4 linked regions of the Homo sapiens genome follow. The protein of the gene in region 2 purifies or fractionates together with the protein of the main gene of each other region. This does not show direct contact. Each region holds a gene or a part of one and is shown on either strand. Other genes may lie near its edges. The genes, in order: PRMT2, GTF2H3, PRDM11 and ICOSLG.

Region 1 (4,478 bases), on a different chromosome or scaffold from region 2:
ACACAGTTCATGTAAATCACTCATGAAAATGTTACATGAACTTTGACTTAAATTTCTCATAAAGGCATTTTTTAAATCAGGTGAAAATTCAAGACACTGAGCCAATGTCCACACAAGAAATTAATTAGACCTCACATTAGGGAAAACATCAAAATGAATCACGCACGACCCTTGAGATCCTGAGGTTGGCCCAGCCGAGCCCGTGCTCAGAAGCCCCCCAGCTCCGGCCCCCAGCTGCCCGCACGCCCGCCCTCACCAGCAGGCAGGTCCCCATCCACTCAGACACCAGCACGTCCACCTTCTCGGGCAGCACCACATCCTCCACCTTCTGCTGGTACACGGTGATGATGTCAGCAAAGCCGTTCTGCAGGACCAGCTGCCCCGTGTGCTGTGCCATCTCACTGGCCTCCACCGCGTACACCTGCAGCAGCAGAGGCACCGTCAGCGTACATCCGGCCGGCACACGGCCCGTCATCTACTCTCCTGAGTCACAACCAGCATCACGAGAAATGGTCAATGACACAAGAGGGAAGCAGCATTCCAGACAGCAGAGGCAGCGAGGACTGGCCACACCTGCCCCTCCAGGGGCACCCAGAAAGGAGCCGCCTCTAACCCTCCCAACTGCCCCCACCTCCCGGACAAGACACAGACGCAGGGCTGCAAGTGGATGGAAGACTCGCATGCCCGAGCCGGCTGCCACACGCACAGCAATCTTAATCCATGACCAGCACAGCAACTTCTTAGCACCCAAGTGACAATGCTGGTCTGTGCCACATCTGAGGCCTGTCAGACAATTTCAAACCCAGGTTCTCAGGGAAGGGTCTGGTGGGAAGCACCCAAGCGCTGGGTCCTGGGTCCTGCAGAGCCTGGACTTGGGTGGACACTGTGCTGCGACCCCACCCACTGTGTAAGGAGTCTCCAAGGCTGCAGCTCGGCTCAGCTCAGCACAGTATAGACGGCCTAAGAGGGGTGGGGAGGGGGCCCAGCGTGTGCATCCCTCCCAACCCCATGAGACCAACCACACCCAAGGCCCAGCACAGACATGTGGGTGCACGTGTTTCTCTACTCAACTGAAATAAACGTCTCACAGAACATACCCCGCCCCACGCAATTCACGGGATATTGTCTATTCTGCCCTACTCCCGTCTGTGCTGTCTGCGACTCATTGTACGCGGGCGCCACGGCCTCTAGCACGCGGTCTCCACGCACTGCTATTTTACCGACCCTGAGCCCCACGTGCAGGGTGCTCAACAAGACCATGGAGTCACCGGTGAGCCCCCAACAGCTCAGGGTCACAAGTCAGCACACTCAGAGGCCACCTCGGACGTCACCAGCCTCGGCACAAACACCCGGGATGCGCTCGAGACCCCACTCACCGCTCTAGGCCGCGCATAGTGTGCACAGAAGAGACTGATGATCCCAGTCCCACAGCCCACGTCCAGGATGACTTTATCCGTCAGGGATTCTTTATTCTGCAGGATGACACTGTGGTATTTAGTTGTTCGTGGCTGGTCTGCCAACATCTCCAAGTGGAGTTTCTGGAAGAAATGCACATTCAGAATCACTGCCTGTGACCTAGAGCCATGCTGAGGTCTGGACTGAGATGGAGGGTCAGAGCCACAGCTGATGACCCCTGACCCCAACACCCCTATGGAAGACTATGGAAGGCCTGGACATCACTGTCAACCAAGTTAATCTCATTGGTATTTAGAGAACACTTCACCCACCCCCTTATAACAGTAATAATACACAAAAAATACCTAGGAACAAATTTAACAAGAAAGGTGCACAACCATGTATGACAAAGAGATATTGTCCTTATCTTAAAATACTAAGAGATATTAAACAAAGCTTAAGTAATCAGAGACTGAGAGTCAATGTTATAAAGATGTCAGCTCTCCCAAAATTAACATAAACATTCCATGCAGTACCTACTAAAGGAGAAAGCACAACAAAATGATAATAAAATTAGTTTCAAAACAGTAAGTGCCCAAGGCTAATGAGGAAAATGCTTTAAAAAAAAAAGAACTGCTGGAGACCTAGCTCTTGCAGATCCTACAAAGGTGCAGTGATGGAAATGACGAAGCACTGGGAACTGCAGTAAACAGACCAGTGAAACAACAGGAATTCTACAGCAGACCCCTGAAATCCAGAGCAGGACAAACGCACCGTTTCACATCAACGCGAAGGGAACTGTCCAGTAACTGAGGCTGGGGTCGCTGGAGATTTGTGGGCATACATTAGGGCGGAATTTTACATTATATTTTTTACAACAAATAATTTCTAGATTTTTTATTATTTAAAATCTCATTGTTTAAAATAGAATCAGAAGGCCAGGCAGGGTGCCTCACCCCTGTAATCCCAGTACTTTGGGAAGCTAAGGTGAAGGTCCCTTAAACCCAGGAGTTTGAGGATACAGTGCACTATGACTGCACCACCGCACTCCAGCCACTCATACGACAGAGTGTGACACCATCTCTAAAAAACATAAAAAACAAAAATAAAATAACACAGAATCATAACAGTTCTGAAAACAAAAGTGTGGGTATTTATAATCTTATAGTGAGGAAGGTTTTTCACAAAGAAAAGAAAAAGAAGTCACAAAGAAAAGAAAACCATATTAGGCTATACAAAGAAAAAAGTTGTACGTGGGAAAAAATTTCACAAAGTCACAAAACTTCACAAATTCAGGCTAAATTACTTAACACACGAATCAACAAAAATCAAAAGGGGCAAATAATATGAAAGTTTACAAAAAAAGAAAAAATACAAAAGGCCCATAAACACATAAAAGATAATCAATCTTACTTAAAAAATGGAAATCAAAACTAAAAGATGCCATATTTAACTTTTAAGATCAAAGTCCTTTTTCACTTTGATTTGTGGTAGGGAAATGAGCTTTCACACACCATCATGCCACGGTCTGAAATGTCTCCAAAAATCCATGTACTGAAACTTAATCGTCAGTGTGATGGCATTAAGAGGCCACCTTTGGAGGTTACTATGAAAGGGTTTGTGGTGAAAGAGGTGCTCCCAGCCCTCCCGCCTTCACCACGTGAGGACAGCCATGAGGCGCCATCTTGGACACCAATGCCAATGCCTTCCCAGCCTCCAGAACTGCGAGAAACAAAGCTTTGTTCTTCATAATTCACTCAGTCTAAGGTATTTTGTTACAGCAGCACAAACAGACCAAGTGTATAATTAGCAAATCTTTCTGGAGGGCGAACTGGCAAGATCCACTTAAGGAAACCACATGTACACACTACACACACACACCCCGTAGGAATTTACCCTATAGAAATTCTAAACAGCATTTAACAGGATTATACAGGACTCCATTACAGCATTATTTATCATGATAAAAAGCTATTAAATAACCACTGTCCAAATATCAACAGGACCCTTTTAAAGTAACACAACGCTCTGCAGCTGTTATAAAGAGTGACAGGTGCCAATATGAGAGATCTTCAAAATACTACAGCTACGTGAAAAGAGCAAGGTGAAGACCTGAGTGGTGGAACAATGCCTTTTCTATACATTAAAAACGTAAAATACATTAGGTGTCACTTGGACTTCATAAGCACAGAGGAATCTGGTGGGCAGTGGTTCTTTGAGCTGAGAGGCGGCAGAGGTGGGAGGCTGGAATTGGCTTTTCATTATGTATCTTTCCTTAACGGATAGAAATCACTAACCATGTACAGACATGAATAGTTTTTAACACTTTTAATTGTGAAATATGGCATACCTGCGAAAAAGTGCAATAAAAAGTATCTGCAGAGTTAGTCAAGTATTGTTATATAGCAAACACCTCTATACCTATATCCAACCCCAGAACACTGCCAGCATGTCAGAACTCCTGACTCAGCCACGCTGGTCCCAGAGCCTCCCCTACCAGCAGGTAACCTCCATTCAACCAACAGGGGAGCCACTCCTGCCCTCAGTCAGTCTCAGCACCCATGCACACTCACAAACAGTACCTTCCGGCCGGGCGCAATGGTTCATGCCTGTAATCCCAGCCCTTTGGGAGGCTGAGACAGGAGGATCACTTGAGGCCAGGAGTTCAAGACCAGTCTGGCCAACATGGCAAAACCCCCTCATTAAAAATACAAAAATTAGCCAGGCATGGTGGCACGCACCTGTAGTCCCAGGTACACAGGAGGCTGTGGCAGGAGAATTGCTTGAACCCGGGAGGCAGAGGCTGCAGTGAACTAGGATCCTGCCACCACACTCCAGTCTGGGTGACAGAGCAAGACTACGTCTCAAAAAAAAAAAAACAAAAACAAACAAAAAACCTTCTAATATGGCCTCTTAACTTTATATAATTGAGTCAAACGTTATAGATTCTTTGCCCTATTCCTTCTTTCAACTAACATCATTTTTATAACATTCATCCTGCAAGTAACTGTTTTCATCTAGTTTTAAAATGTAACCAGAGATTGTTGCCTGGACCATCGGGTTATAGGCATTTCTCCATGGTG
Region 2 (4,478 bases):
AGAACAGACAAGGCCAGGCACAGTGGCTCATGCCTGTAATCCCAGTACTTTGGGAGGCCGAGGTAGGCAGATCACCTGAGTTTAGGAGTTCGAGATCAGCCTGGCCAACATGGTGAAACTCCAACTCTACTAAAAATACAAAAAATTAGCTGGGCGTGGTGACGGATGCCTGTAATCCCAGCTACTCGGAAGGCTGAGGAAGGAGAATCACTTGAACCCAGGAGGCAAAGGTTGCAGTGAGCCGAGATCGCGCCATTGCACTCTAGCCTGGGCAACAAGAGCAAAACTCCGTCTCAAAAAAAAAAAAAAAAGGCCACAAAAACCTCCCCACTATAACCTGTTTGATTCCATTTACATGAAAAAAATCTAGAAAATCCAAACTAATCTACAGTGACACAAAGAGATCAAGAGTTGCCTGGGAGTACAGACAGGCAAAGAAGGTGTGGTCGAGAGTGGGACCAGATTACAAACGAACAAACATGAAGAATCAGCCAGGTGCGGTGGCTCACTCCCATAATCCCAACACTTTAGGAAGCCAAAGCGGGCAGATCACATGAGGCCAGGAGTTCGAGACCAGCCTGGCCAACATGGCAAAACCCCATCTCTACTAAAAATACAAACAATTAGCTGAGCATGGTGGTACGCACCTGTAGTCCCAAGTACTCGGGAGGCTGAGGCATGAGATGGTGGTGCTGATGGACACACAAATCAATGAATGTGGTAAAACTGCACAGAACCACACACATACACGCACGCACGCATACACACAAGTGAGCACATGTAAAACCTGCAATCTGCTTAGGTCTGTAGATTGCACTGATAGTTTCAAAATTGTACTATCATTATGTAAAATGTCACCACTGAAAGAACTTGAGTGATGGGTACACAGGACCTCTCTGTATCTTTTCTGGTTTCCTATGTCTATATTATTTAAAAATAAAATATTTCAAAATAGAAAGTATTTTTTAAGACCACATATTGTATGAAATCAATACATGAAATGTCCAGAAAAGGGAATTTAGAGATAGAGGGCAGATCAGTGGTTGCTTGCAGCTTGGAGATAGAAGCAGGGATTGACTGCAAGCAGGCATGAGGGAACGCTACGCAGTCAAAGAAATATTCTAAAGCAGAAATGTGGGGCTGGTTACACAACTTCGCAAATTTACTTAAAAAAAATCACTGAATTGTACAGTGGCTGAATATTACAGTATGTAAATTATACTTTAATAAAGCCATTTTTTAAAAAAGCAATATAAACACTCAGTTAAACCAGAATTCTCCAAAGGCCTCCTCAAGCAGTCTTACCTGAGATTCCTTTAATGCTTGCTTTCCCCACCAAATTGGGTTGGCATCAACTACAATAACCAGAAGATTCAATTCATCTTCTGAAAATATTAACAAGAAATAAAATTTAAAACATTAGCTCCATAAAAATGAATCAAAGCTAACATTCCCAATTCATAAATTAAATCCAGAGCACCACTATATGCCTTAAATGTTTATCACCTTATAATTATGAGATTAACAGAAGACCCAGTTAAAGCTTTAAAGCTGGGCAGGGCGTGGTGGCTCACGCCTGTAACCCCAGCACTTTGGGAGGCCGAGGCAGGCAGATCACGAGGTCAGGAGATCGAGACCATCCTGGCTAACACGGTGAAACCCCGTCTCTACTAAAAATACAAAAAATTAGATGGGCGTGGTGGTGGGCGCCTGTAGTCCCAGCTACTCGGGAGGCTGAGCCAGGAGAATGGCGTGAACCCAGGAGGCGGAGCTTGCAGTGAGCCGAGATCACGCCACTGCACTCCAGCCTGGGCCACAGAACAAGACTCTGTCTCAAAAAAAAAAAAAAAAAAAAAGCTTTAAAGCACAGTGGGCCCTTAGCAAGTTCTTGTCTACGTCCTGAACCACTATATCTCCAATGCACTAAATGTAAACTCTGTGAGGGTAGGAATTTTTGTCTCTTTTGTTCACTGCTTATCCTCACTCCTACCACACTGCCTAGCACATTGCAGCTGCTCAATAAATATCTACTGAACGAGGGCCAGGTGTGGTGGCACAGGCCTGTAGTCCTAGCACTTTGGGAGGCCAAGACAGGCAGATGGCTTGAGCTCAGAAGTTCCCAAGACCAGCCTGGGCAATATCGCAAAACCTTTTCTCTACTAAAAATATAAAAATTAGGGCCGGGCGCGGTGGCTCATGCCTGTGATCCCAGCATTTTGGAAGGCCAAGGAGGGGGGATCACTTGAGGTCATAAGTTCAAGACCAGCCCGGCCAACATGTTGAGCCACCCCATCTCTACTAAAAATACAAAAAAAAAAAAAAATTAGCTGGGTTTGGTGGCAAGCACCTGTAATCCCAGCTACTCGGGAGACTGAGGCAGGAGAATCACTTGAACCCGGGAGGCGGAGGCTGCAGTGAGCCAAGATTGCACCACTGCACTCCAGCCTGGGTAACAGAGCAAGACTTCATCTCGGGGAAAAAAAAATAGCCGGGCATGGTGGCACATGCCTGTAGTCCCAGCTACTCAGGAGGGTGAGGAGAGAGGATCGCTTGAGACCGGGAAGTCGAGGCTACAGTGAGCCATGTTCCTGCCAATGCACTCCAGCCTGGGAGACAGAATGAGACCCCGTCTGGAAACAAACAAACAAACAAACAAACAAACAAAACCACCTACTGCATTCTGAATGCCTGGTCAAGGACAGAAGGCACTGGTTAACTAGTAGTAGGAATCCCAGTGGTAGAATTTCAGGAGCAAAAAATTAAAGGGAGGCGTAGCTGTCAATTTGGCCCGTACTCATCAAATCATGTAGCAGCAAGGCCAATCGTAATTAAGAGTCACTTTTTAAAAGGTAAAAAAACCAGGCTGGGCGCCCATCCCAGCCCTTTGGGAGGCTGAGGTGGGCAGATCACTGAGGTCAGGAGTTCAAGACCAGCCTAGCCAATATGGCAAAACCCCGTCCCTACTAAAAATACAAAATATTAGCCGGGCATGGTGGTGCACACCTGTAATTCCAGCTACTCGGGAGGCTGAGGCAGGAGAATCACTTGAACCTGGCAGGCAGAGGTTGCAGTGAGCTGAGATCTTGCCACTGCACTCCAGCCTGGGTGACAGAGTGGGACTCTGTCTCAAAAAAAAAAAAAAAAGTTAAAAAACAGAGGGAAAAGCAATTCCTACGTCAAGATTTTACTGTTAAGAGGAATTCTATTCTCTAAACTAAACAGGCTACCACAACACATTAATCATTCATTTGGATTTTTGTTTTTTGGGTTTTTTTTAAGAGATGGGGGGGTCTCAATAAATTGCCCAGGCTGGTCTTGAAATCCTGGGCTTGTGATCCTCCTGCATCAGCCTCCCCAGTAGTAAGGACTACATGCACGCACCACCCCAAACACATTAATCCTTCAACAAACTTTCACACTACCAGTGTTAGGTGTTGGGGATACTGGGTCCAACCCCTCAAAGAGACTATACTCTAATTGAGGTGACAGACAGACATACAAACCTGTGAGTATACACTGTTATGAAAGGCCCAGGATGCTCATTTATTTATTTATGTATTTTTAAACAAATTTTTGAGACAAGGTCTCAAGGTTGGAGTACAGTGCCACGAATATAGCTCACTGCAGCCTTGACCTCCTGGGCTCAAGTGATCTTCCTGTCTCAGTCTCCCACACAGCTGGGACAACAGGCGTGCACTACCACATCCAGCTAATTATTATTTTTTTTTTTTGAGACGGAGTTTTGCTCTTGTTGCCCAGGGTGGAGTGTAATGGCGCGATCTCGGCTCACCGCAACCTCCGCCTCCCGGGATCAAGCGATTCTCCTGCCTCAGCCTCCTGAGTAGCCGGGATTACAGGCATGCACCACCACGCCCAGCTAATTTTGTATTTTCAGTAGAGACAGAGTTTCTCCACGTTGGTTAGGCTGGTCTCGAACTCCCGACCTCAGGTGATCTGCCCGCCTTGGCCTCCCAAAGTGCTGGGATTACAGGCATGAGCCACCACACCCAGCCACTTGGCTAATTTTTAAATTTTTGTAGAGACAGGGTCTCACTTTGTTGCCTAGGCTGGTCTCGAACTCCTGGGCTCAAGTGATCCTCCCACCTCAGCCTCCTAAAGTGTTGGGATTACAGGCATGTGCCGCCGTGCCCGGCTCTAGGATGCTCATTTAATAGCAAAGAGCAGTAATGCCTTTCCTCCCTCCGTACTTTGCTTCCTGCAGTCCTGTCTTCTACATTAGGAGAATCTCTACCCCATCTTTGATTTCTGTGTATTCAAATCCCAATTACTCCTCAAAGCCCCAAACCAGCGCAAACTCTTTCTTCTTCATGACTCCCCTATCTCAGAGCAGAAGGAATGCCAGCCTCCTCTGCACTAAGCACCGGAATCTGCAATCCCAAAATCCCATTCCACCCTGACAACCACCCAGCAAAGGACATTTTCCTGCCATTTTTCATCAATTATAAGATGACCCCCAC
Region 3 (5,278 bases), on a different chromosome or scaffold from region 2:
CACCAAGGGCTTCACGCACGGAGTGACACAGGGACTCAGGCTGGCAGCAGCCACCACCATCCCGCCTTACTACCAGTTGCCATGCCACAGGGAAAGTGCACTGTGGAGGGTCTCACACCAGCAATTAAATGCTGTGGCCCAGAAGTGACGTGAATCACTGTCATTTATAATTCACCAGCCAGTCATGGGGCCCCCACCCAAGCGCAGGTAGAGCTCCAGTCAACCTACTGTGGAAATGGAAGAACCGGAAATAGTAAGAGGAAAGCACTAAGGACCACCAGACACTCCCATCCCACTGTGCCCTTTGCTAACCTTAATTTATTCATTAGATGACAACAGCTCAAGGATTTGAGGAGGAAAGGCCAGCCTATGTAGGAGAGATCGGGGTATGGAGTTCAGAGAGATCTAGGAGAGGATAGAAGATGAGGTCAAGGGCAGGGGCCAGATCATTCGGTAGCTTTTAGGTCACTACACCAATTTGGTTCTTTATCCCCAACACACTGGAAAGACTTCTAGGTGTTTAAAGCAGGAAATGGGATGCCTGATATGATCCTATTTGGAATGGATCACTCTGACTGCCATGAGGGGGTGACTGCAGGTAGACATTAGGAGGCTCTTGCTGTTGTCCTGGGGAGAGACAGCGATGGCTTGACTACAACACTGGGGAAGAGGGGATGGAGAGAAGTGGATGGGTTCATTTGAGAGGATAAAGTTATCTGGGTCTGGAGATGGAGTAGATTGGGGTGACAGAGACAGAGACACCAAGGCTTCTGCCTTAAAGAGTAGTGGGACAGTGTGCTCTTGGCCAAGATCAGAGCCCTAGAAGAGGTTTAGAGAGGAAGATTATGGACACCTTTGGCCACTGTGGGTTTGTCATGCCTATGAGACAGCCAAGAGAGCAGGCCAAGAAGGCAGCTGAATCCACAGGCAGGACTCCCGACTCCTACCCCAGTGTTCTTTACTTTATACTTGCCAACAACCTGGAACCAGGGAAACTCCCTGTAAGTCCAGGAGAGGGCAGATCCAAATAGGAGAAATCCTACTTGACACCAAGGAGAAGAAATTGATGGAACACATCAACCCAAGAAGTCTAGACGACAGAACTGTAACTCAGGTCAAATGAGTCCATAAGTGCAGAGGTGATGGCTATCATGACCAATCTAGGACTCCTAGGACAACTGAGGGGAGTCCCTCATCTTTGTGAACGTCACCAGGGAAGGAAACGAGACCCTGCCACCAGCTGTTCCTTGGGGCCCTGTCAGTTTGAGACTGGATGGACCACGGTGGGGTCTGTGGGGGCAATTCTGATATTCCCAGGTCAGTACCTTCTGCCGTGATTCTGGGGGAGAACACTTCTTAAACAGTATGCCAGGCCCTGGAACAGGCATTTCATCTTTGCTATCTCATTTAATTTCACAACTTCCTTGCCGGGCAGGTTTTGTTGGACTCAGGGATGGAGACACAAGGCTCAGAGAGGCCAAAGACAACGATGTGAAGTCCAAAGTCAGACAGTGACTATGAGGAGGAGGTAGAATTCAAAGAGAGAAAGCCTTTCCATTAAACTGAATACAGCAAGAGGTCTGGGCTCTATTCCCAGAAGGGAAGGTTTCTACACGTGCCCTATAGAACTCTGCTTGTCCACCTTTCAGAGAGTCGGCGGGCAAAGACTGTGCCCTGCTCCCCAACTACGACCCTACACCTCCAACAATGACCCTAGGAAAGCCCGAACCTTCCTCCCTCCCAAGAGGAAATGTGGGCAAGGACCAGCTTGGTTGCTACAGGCATCATGCTCCACAGAAAATTCTTCTGTCCCCAAACCCCCAAAGTTTATAGGGTTTCCAGGTACCAAGAGCAATCTCTCATCATTGCCTCCTGGCCCCACGCACAAAGGGCTGGGTGTGTTTCCTTACAGCCACTCTAAATTATACAGCACAGCCTTTCTCCACACGAAGCAAACGTCTAGGAAAGAGGAGACGTTTCACATTTTTCTCCCCTAAATCCCAGCCCAGCCTGGGGGGTTCTAAGCCCCCATCTCCCAACTGGGCTCTAGACACACACCAGCAATTTTTCACCAGCATCGCCCAAGACATTGGTATTCTCTTTGCAGCGACTCGCCTAGAGCACGCTGGCCTTGACCGGAGAGAGGTCATTGGCCGCTAAGTTTCTGCAGTTTCTGCATAGGAGAGTACCTTGGGGACTGCGAGTGGGGGGTGGAGGCTACGCTCCGGAGAGGTTTCCCGAAGAGTCTACACCGCAACTGACACTTAAAACGCATTCCAGAAATGCCCTCCGGCTCGGCCACGCTTCGCGGGCAATCGCGAACCGCGATGGAGAAGGCTTCGTCGCATCCCAAAGGACGCCTCCCACCTTCATCCCCGAGCACCCCGCAGCAGCCCCCGGCGCGGGGCCGAGGGCGTCCGCGAGAACTAGGCCGGCGGCCGCGGCGAGCCCTCTGGCGTCGGCGTCCGCGCCCCGCCCCGTCCGTGTCACCGCGTTCTCATTCCGAGCGCTCGGCCCGGGCCGCCACTCCCATTGGTCGGCGGCCACGTCCGTCAGCGGGCGCGCCGCTTGCGGAGAGAAAAGGCTACATTGTAACAAGGCGAGGAGCGAGCGAGCTGGGAGGAAGGAGGCGGAGGGCGGCCCCCGGCTCCCGCGGCGGCGGCAGCTACCTGCCGAGGGTTCACCCACCTCGCGGCCACGGCGGGCCGCCCCCCACCCCGCGCCGGCGCCGTCCGGACCCCCGCCCCGCGCCCGCGCCGAGACCCCCGGCCGCCCCCGCCCCCAGCCGCCGCTCCCGGCCCCCGCACCGGCGGCCCCCGCGCTCGCTGGCAAACTGCCGAGCGCTCTCCGAAGCCATTTTCAATGGCCACATTGGCTACCGGGGCTGACTCACCTTCCCGGGAATGCTGCGGCAGCCGCGGGGCCCGGGCGGCGAGAGCGGCCCGGCGGGCGGCTCGGCGGAGGCGGCGCGGCCTCGGCTGGCGGCCCCCGCGGAGGGAGCGGCCGCGCTGCGGGCGCGCTGGTCCCCGGCGAGGCAAAGTTTCAGCGCCAGCCTCGGCGCGGCGGCGGCGGCGACTCGCTGCTGCTCTCCTCCCCTGCTTTGACCACCATCTTATTAGTACAGGAAATGACATGGAAAACGGAAGAAAGCGGCGTTTGGGGCAGACGCGGACCCCCCAATTCAGGGGCCGGAGCCGGGACTCACCAGCCGCGTCCCGACCCGGCCCCGGAGAAAACTCCCGGGGCCCCTTAGGCCCGCGCCCTGCCCGGAGGGGGGAACCCGGCTCTCCAAACCCAAAGGGAGAGGGAGCGTTTTATAATCCAGCCCGTGGAGAAATCGAGAAAAAAATAGATGAAAAAAAGAAAAGGTTAAGAGAGAACTTTCGAACTGGGATACTTTTTTGGGGTCAGAAGTAAAAGTTCTCAAATTTTAATAAAGTCATTGTGAGGGGGGCTCCCTGGCTCTCCCGGTCGCGTGGCTGTCCATTTGGAACCAAATAGTCGGGGGGAGTCGACGCGTTTGGATTTTTAACCCTTTCAGGGCTCCGCGGCTGGCCCCCTCCCGGTCCCATTTAACCCTTTGAATGCTCAGCAGTTTGGAGATACAAACTGAAGTTGCGAGACGCAGGCGTCCCGCGAAGGCTGAGGGTGAGGGGCTTGGGGTTCGTTAAAAATATTAACTCTTTATGTGGGGTTGCGGTTTTGTAGTCACGAATCGCACATGTTCTTCAAGTCAAAATATGTTACAGAGGGAGAGAGATTCTGAGAACTGGAGGGGCTGGTCCCTGGCTGGCTTGGAAAAGATGTTTAAGCGGCATTCACTTGCTCGATTCCTCAGTTTCTCCATCTGTGAAATGGGATTCGACATCACAGAGAGGGGGTGAAGAGGGAAAGACTGGGCCGGGGGTGGAATTGTCACAGAGTGCTTGAGTGCTTGACATGCTTTCCTGAGCGCCTGGAAAACTGACAGGTTGCGATGGGGCTGGAAGCCTTGGAGGAGGGCAAGGGACACTGCAGGGTGGCGTAACCAGGACAACCATTCCCCAATCAACCCCTTTCTCGTGGCGTCCTCTACAAGTCCTGTGGCCCAATGGCGACGTCTCTCCTACCAAGGGAGGATGCTCTGTGCAAGCTCCAAAATTGGGGCAGTAAACCCCAGTTGGTGATTCCCAGGAAGGCACCTGGGCGAGGCGCTGTCCAGTGCTTTCCCCAAACATCCACGAAGCCCTGCAAGAGTTGCCCAGACGGCCCCCAGAGGGTACTACCCCAGGGAAGCCTCCTCCCAAGGCGGAAGGAGTTCCGTGTCAACCTTGCTGCTGGCGATCCGCAGATGGGCGTTCATGGTCAGATGGGCGTTCATGGTCAGATGGGGGTGCTCATGGCTTTTGGAATCTGGATGTGGAGCTGGAGGCGGTGGGGGTGATGAGGGAGGGAGCACTGTGGGTACCACATCATTTGTTTCCCTTGACTCTGGCGTCACAAACACAGCTTCTTGGAATCTCATGCCTGTTACTGGCTGTGTGATCTGGAGCAACTGGCTTCACCTCTCTGAGCCTTTATTTCCCACATCTGCAAAGTGGTGCACAGTAATACCCACGTTCCTGGCTCTGTGTAAGGAGCCATGAGAGTGTATTTAAAGGGCCCAGCACCCAGCTGCTCTCAGTAGATGCTCAAGAGACAGTAACAACCCTATCGTTATATGAGGTTCAATGCAACTGTAAGTTTCCTGAGTATTTCTCTGCTTGGTGCCAGGCAGAGTGTCGGGTACTGGGGGACGGGGGTTGGGGGAGGGGTTCCACGATTAGAATGACAAGATCCTTCAGGCAGGTCTTGGTCTGCCCAAGAGATGAAGGCACTCGCAGATAACTTCAATTAATTCAGAACTGAATGCACCTCCAGTTGCACTGAGCATGGTTTTGGATGCCAAGTGCCCGGCCGAGAAAAGAGCACTGAGGAAGGAGCCATTTGTTGTTCCTTTTGAGGAGAAAGATTCACCAAGGAAGTAATGTCAGAGGTAGGCCTGGAATTTCCACCAATGGTAGGATGGCATTGCCAGGAAGGCAAAGAGCAGAAGCAAAGACCTCGAGGCGTCAACGTACCCAGGGTGTTGGACATGTGTCCTGCAGTGACTGGGGTAGAGGGTGAGGCAGAGATATCGGAGATGAGGGCAAAAAGAGAAGTAGATAAAGGAGGGGAGTGGTCCCATCCTCCAGAGAGCAAAAAGATCTTTAAGAGAATGAGCTGGCAAGTTGGAAGTGAGGTAAGGAGGGAATTTCTT
Region 4 (4,986 bases), on a different chromosome or scaffold from region 2:
CCTGGTCTCGAACTCCTGACCTCAGGTGATCCACCCGCCTTGGCCTCCCAAAGTCCTGGGATTACAGGAGTGAGCCACTGCACCTGGCACCTGCAGGAAAATCTGTGTGTGTCCCCTGCCCCCAAAGCCCTCTGGGCTGGAAGGCTTGGCAAGGTTTCAGGTTTGTGCTGCGGTGCTTCGTCCTTATTCCTGGCTCTTCCAGAGGCTGGTGGCTCTTAGGGCTCAGCAGGGCTGCTGCCTGGGACAGGGAGACCAGGGGACCCAGGAAGCCCTGGCTCAGAGGAACTGCATTCTGCCCGCAACAAAGACGGAGTCAAACAAGAACTCCGGAGTTTGCAGAAGTGTTTCCCTTTAAGGAAACGCTTCTATCCTGTGCAGCAACCTAGGTTTAGGGTCCAACTGTCTCCAAAGGACCACTTGAGAAGCAAGAAGGAGCCTGGTGAGGCTGCTCCCAGTGCCCTGCGGCCAGCAGTCCACACAGCCGGAGAGCCCATCTCTGAGCTGGGCGCCCCATGGCAAAGCACCCCCTGAACTTACCAGCTCGAAGGCTGCTGAAGAGCAGGAAGAGCAGTCCAGGACTGGAAAAAACAACCAGAAAGGCAGGTGAGGCGGGGCCACCAGGGAGTTACCTGTATCTTCCAAACAGGAACAGGCTGGTTCCCATGAGCAGGAGGTAGTTAAGCCCATCACAGAAATGTGAAGGCAGAGCCAGGAGCCTGCCTGCCTCTGTTCTCCATGGGAATTCGGGGTCCGGGGCCAGGACCACCACCCTCCTGCCCAGCACAGCAAGTCCGAGGGGCTGGCAGCCTCTCACCACTCTCTAGCTCTCGCGGTAACAAATCCCCAGAAACACAGTGATGCTGGCGTGAGGATGAAGGGGAGCGAGGGACGCCAGTGAGGCTGGTCTAGCCTTCCTGGGGACAGATGCCAAGAAGTTGTAGGAAATCAGAAAAAAAAAAAAAAAAAAAAGCTTTCAGGGCACATATAGTAGGAGTGTCACTTAAAATGCTGGGGAGACGGAGAACATCAGGCGTGCCCGTGACAGGGTCAGGTGAGTGACGGGACAGCCCTGTGCGGAACGCGGATCATTTTGAAACCAAACCTGAGCTCCTCCTGTTTCAGATCCTGCTGCAGCTGGTGCCCCTGCCTCGGGCAGCAAATTCCCCTCGTGACTCCAATGCCCCTGCCATCTTGGGTCTGGGAGCCTTTGCACCCTGCACGCCACAGGCTCGCCACCTCCTCCCGCCAGCCCCCAGGATGCCTTCCCCACGTGGGGGCCCTTAGTGGCCGGGACCACTTTGGTAGCAGTGCTTACCCCAGCCCCCCAAACCATCAGTTTCTGGGGCCAGCTCCCCATGAAGCAAGAGCCCCAGGAGCAGGGACATCTCCTTCTCTGATGTCCCTGCACCTCCAAGGTCTGGGAGACGCTCATCCCTCTTCTCTGTGGCCTCTGCCTGGGAAAGCTTGGGGGCTTTGTAAGTCAAAGGTTGGTCTTGTGGGAACCTCCCAGTGGGCTGTCCCTGAGCCCTGGAGCCACAGAAACCCCTGCCCCACCCACGATGGCTGTCATCTGAGTCTGCATGGAGGTGTGTCTGTGCCAAGTGAGCACACATGCACCAAGGCGGCCCCTGGCCACCAGGGGCTCTTGAAGTCTGCAGGCGGCCCTTCCTCTCTCTCCCACTCCCCCTGTTGGGGCCACCATTCTGGCTGGCAAGATGGCTGTGATGGCCTCCAGCAGGCCCCCTGCCTCCACCCTTAGCCCCTTCAAGCATTTCCCCAGAGCCACCATCTAAACGACAGCTGTGAGAACTCCTCTGTGCCCCCATTTGTCTCCCACAGTGCCCATATTCATCACCAGCCCACAAGGCCCCTCCTGTCTATGGAGGCCTCCTCAGGACATCTGGGGGCTTCCTGGGCCAGGGTGGGGGGTGCCTGCTCCAGGCTGTTTCTGGCTTGTCCCCTCCCTGGGTGCTGCCTAAGCAGCGGCCTCTGTGTCCTTTCCTTGGACCCTCAGCACCCCTGCATCTAACCTACCCCCACCCCGAGCTTGCCTCAAGACCCAGCATGGACAGGGCCGCCTACCTGAAGGTGTGGGTGGCGGAGGGCTAAGACATTTGGGAGGGCTATGACATTCCGGGACCTTTAAATTCTTTCTCTCTAGGGCAGGATCATAACTGCATACACTTCTAATGGGGAGGGGACCTGGGGAGTGTGACTCCGGTGTGGCCCAGCTCTGAGCTGTGCGGGAGGCATCCCTGGGGTCAGGGGCCTCACAGGTTCACCCAGGGGAGCACAGGCTGCGGACCCTACAACGTGGGTTGCGAAGAGTATATTTTGGATATTTTCGCAAAAATCCAGGAGGAAGCTGTCACTCCTGGTTCAGGCAGCCCCGCCTTCCCCAGTGTGGATCGGCTGCCGGGCTGCGGGGAATCCCACGTGTGTGGGGGAGGGCGTGTCCGCAGACCGTGGGCACCAGCTGGCCTTGGAGAGCGCTCGGCCGGTCACCTCCCTCCTTCTCCCTTCTTCTAGGAAATCAGCAGTGCCAGGGAGTGGAAGGGGCAGCGCCCGTGCCCCGGCGTGCAGGGTGCGCCCGCCTTCCCTCCCTCCTTCCAGCGTTCGCGGTCCTCCTTCCCTGGCAGGGACCCCGCCCCCGAGCCCGCCCCCGCACGGCTGTGCGTCCTGCCATGGGTCCCGGTGCCAGGCCCCGCCGCCCACTGCCGTCCACGCCCCGCCGGCCGCCCCGGCGCCTCCGCCGCCCGCTCCTCGGACCCGCACTGCCAGCCCGGCACCTCCAGGCGAGCCCCGCAGGCCCCGCGTCCGAGCCGAGCTGGGGACGCGCGGGCCGAGCCACCCCGCCCCTGACCGCGGCGCCTCCGCTCCTTCCCCGGCTCACCTGCCCAGCCGCATGGTGCGGGCGGAGACCTCGGGCCGCGGAGACCTCGGGGCGCGGAGACCTCGGGGCGCGGAGAACTTGGGCCGCGGGAGACCTCGGAGAGGAGCAACCTCGGGGCGCGGGAGATCGGCTCTAACTGCGCTCCCGCCGCGCCCGAGGCTCTGAGCGCCCAGCGCGCGGTGTGCTGGAGGCAGCCGTGTCCCCGCCCCGTCCCCGCCCCGCCCCCGGCCTGGCTCCTCTGGCGACCGAGACCGCCCCGGGACAGGAGGCGGGGCGCTGCGCGGCGGCTCCGGAAAGTTCGGCTCTGCCCAGGCGTGTGCCCGTCGGCCGGAGGCGGGACAGAGGCAGGTCGGCCTGTCCGCCTGGACGCGGACCTGGGCGCCGTAGGTGCCCTGGGAAGCGCAGGGGTGGGGGGTACCCGGCAGGAAGGTGGCCAGGGGTGCTGCGGGTGCCGGCGCAGCGAGGGAGGGCACCGTGGGAGGCAAGGGCCGTTCCCCGCGCCGCGCACAATGCGCCGGTCCTGCGGCCCTCCCCGAGCAGGAGTCCGGGGACCCAGGCCCCAAGGCTGGGAGAGCGCCAGGCCCCTGGCCGGCTGCGCTCCGATGATCTCCAGGACTTAAGGCGAGTGAGCTCAGCGACTGCTGAGGAATGAATGACTGAATGAACGCATGCATGAATGGAAGGAGGGAGGGAAAGTGGGCGGGCTCTACCCTCTGGGCCAGCCCCAGCCCGCCCCCACCTAGCCTTGCTCCCCTAGCCTTCTAGGGGTGTGAAGGGCGCTGGCGCAGCCTCTTTGCTTAACACTGGCTCTGAGGATCCCCCGCCGAGAAACCGAGGCAGGCTTGCGGCTCTGGGCTCGTCAGCCTTGGCAGTGGCGTCTGGCCTGGAGTCTGGGGCAGCTGGTTTGGGAAAGGCTGCACCACGCAACCGAGGGTGGGACCCAGAGTCCCTGCTCCTTCCCCACCGCACCCAGCCCACCCCGCCCTCCCTCCCTGATCCCTGCAAGCCAGGTGAGGCCCAGGGGGGACGTGACTCCCTTTCTGCAGAGGCACCTCCGGAAGGGCCTGGGTGAGGCTGCTAGACAGGGCAGCGGGGCACCCTCCTCCCGGAGCCCCCGCCTCTGGGCTGAGGCTCGGATCCCCACCGCCTCCTGCGCATGGAGGAGGCGAGAAGCGCAGGGAGACGGGGGCCCCAGACGGCACCCCGCAGGCTGCCATTCCTTCAACCAAGATGTAGAGAACGCCGTGGACAAAAGCTTTAAAAAAATTCTGAAACCTCTGCCCGTGGGAAGTCAACATTTTTGCGGAGCAGAGAGCCCAGGCACAAAATAAGAAGGCGGAAGAGACGGGCTGGGGGGATAGGGGGGACGGCGGCGGGGAAGGGCAGGGAGGGCGGCGGCGAAGGCGCAGGAAGCCCTGAAGCCGGGCGGCTTCCCCCTCCCAGGCCACGCTGAGAGACGGGGGTTGGGGGGATTTAAAATCGCGCGCCTGGCAGGGGCGGGGCGGGGGCCACCTGCCCTCCGGCGGGAAGAGCTGGGCAGGGCCCGCGGAGTGCAGGGCGGAGGCACTGGCGGTCCGCACCCGGGTGAGGTGAGGCGCGTAACCGCATCTGAGCCGGACTCTTTAGGACGAGTCCCGTCCCTGGAGTCAGAAAACCCGGTCCAGCGCCAGCGTGGACGTGCGCTTCCCGGGACACGCCCAGGGACGCCGGCTAGGACCGGCGAGGCTGGAGGGGTGGCGATGTTGGGGGCTGAGGTTCCTCGCCCCGGGGCGGGCGGCTGCTGGTAAGGGACCGCATGGCCCCGCAGGTGAGGAGGGCGCAGGTGAGGAGGGCGCAGGTGAGCCGGGCGGGCTGCGGGCAGCGCCACCTCCTCCCGGAGGCCCTCCCTGATTGACCGGCCGGGAACCGCGCGCCTCTGGGCCTGCGGCTGAGGTCCGGGGCTGCGCCGCGCCGATGAGCTGACGCCGGGCCGAGCGCTCCACCCCCAGGGCCGGGCGCACCTGAATCCCCTCCACCCGCGGGACTGCGGAGAGGGGGACGGCCCCCGGATACCGCGTGGGGGCTTTGGGAGGATGGGGAATGGGTCCTGGGGG

What was found.
Region 1: the proteins of GTF2H3 (region 2) and PRMT2 purify together in Homo sapiens (affinity purification with mass spectrometry, with the first as the bait; one large-scale study listed by BioGRID). This does not show direct contact.
Region 3: the proteins of GTF2H3 (region 2) and PRDM11 purify together in Homo sapiens (affinity purification with mass spectrometry; one large-scale study listed by BioGRID and IntAct). This does not show direct contact.
Region 4: the proteins of GTF2H3 (region 2) and ICOSLG purify together in Homo sapiens (affinity purification with mass spectrometry; one large-scale study listed by BioGRID and IntAct). This does not show direct contact.

Annotation. Positions count from the first base shown.
Region 1 is NC_000021.9:46,645,518-46,649,995, reverse strand, and holds part of PRMT2 (protein arginine N-methyltransferase 2), read right to left. Parts: intron 1,539-4,478; coding exon 1,377-1,538; intron 422-1,376; coding exon 257-421; intron 1-256. UniProt on the Homo sapiens protein: Arginine methyltransferase that methylates the guanidino nitrogens of arginyl residues in proteins such as STAT3, FBL, histone H4. Acts as a coactivator (with NCOA2) of the androgen receptor (AR)-mediated transactivation.
Region 2 is NC_000012.12:123,636,171-123,640,648, reverse strand, and holds part of GTF2H3 (general transcription factor IIH subunit 3), read right to left. Parts: intron 1,386-4,478; coding exon 1,306-1,385; intron 1-1,305. UniProt on the Homo sapiens protein: Component of the general transcription and DNA repair factor IIH (TFIIH) core complex, which is involved in general and transcription-coupled nucleotide excision repair (NER) of damaged DNA and, when complexed to CAK, in RNA transcription by RNA polymerase II.
Region 3 is NC_000011.10:45,144,493-45,149,770, reverse strand, and holds the start of PRDM11 (PR domain-containing protein 11), read right to left. Parts: upstream 3,133-5,278; 5' UTR 2,894-3,132; intron 2,429-2,893; exon of another isoform or gene 2,190-2,428; intron 1-2,189.
Region 4 is NC_000021.9:44,237,911-44,242,896, forward strand, and holds the start of ICOSLG (ICOS ligand isoform a precursor), read right to left. Parts: upstream 3,034-4,986; 5' UTR 2,908-3,033; coding exon 2,894-2,907; intron 915-2,893; exon of another isoform or gene 688-914; coding exon of another isoform or gene 630-687; exon of another isoform or gene 579-629; coding exon 538-578; intron 1-537. UniProt on the Homo sapiens protein: Ligand for the T-cell-specific cell surface receptor ICOS. Acts as a costimulatory signal for T-cell proliferation and cytokine secretion. Also induces B-cell proliferation and differentiation into plasma cells.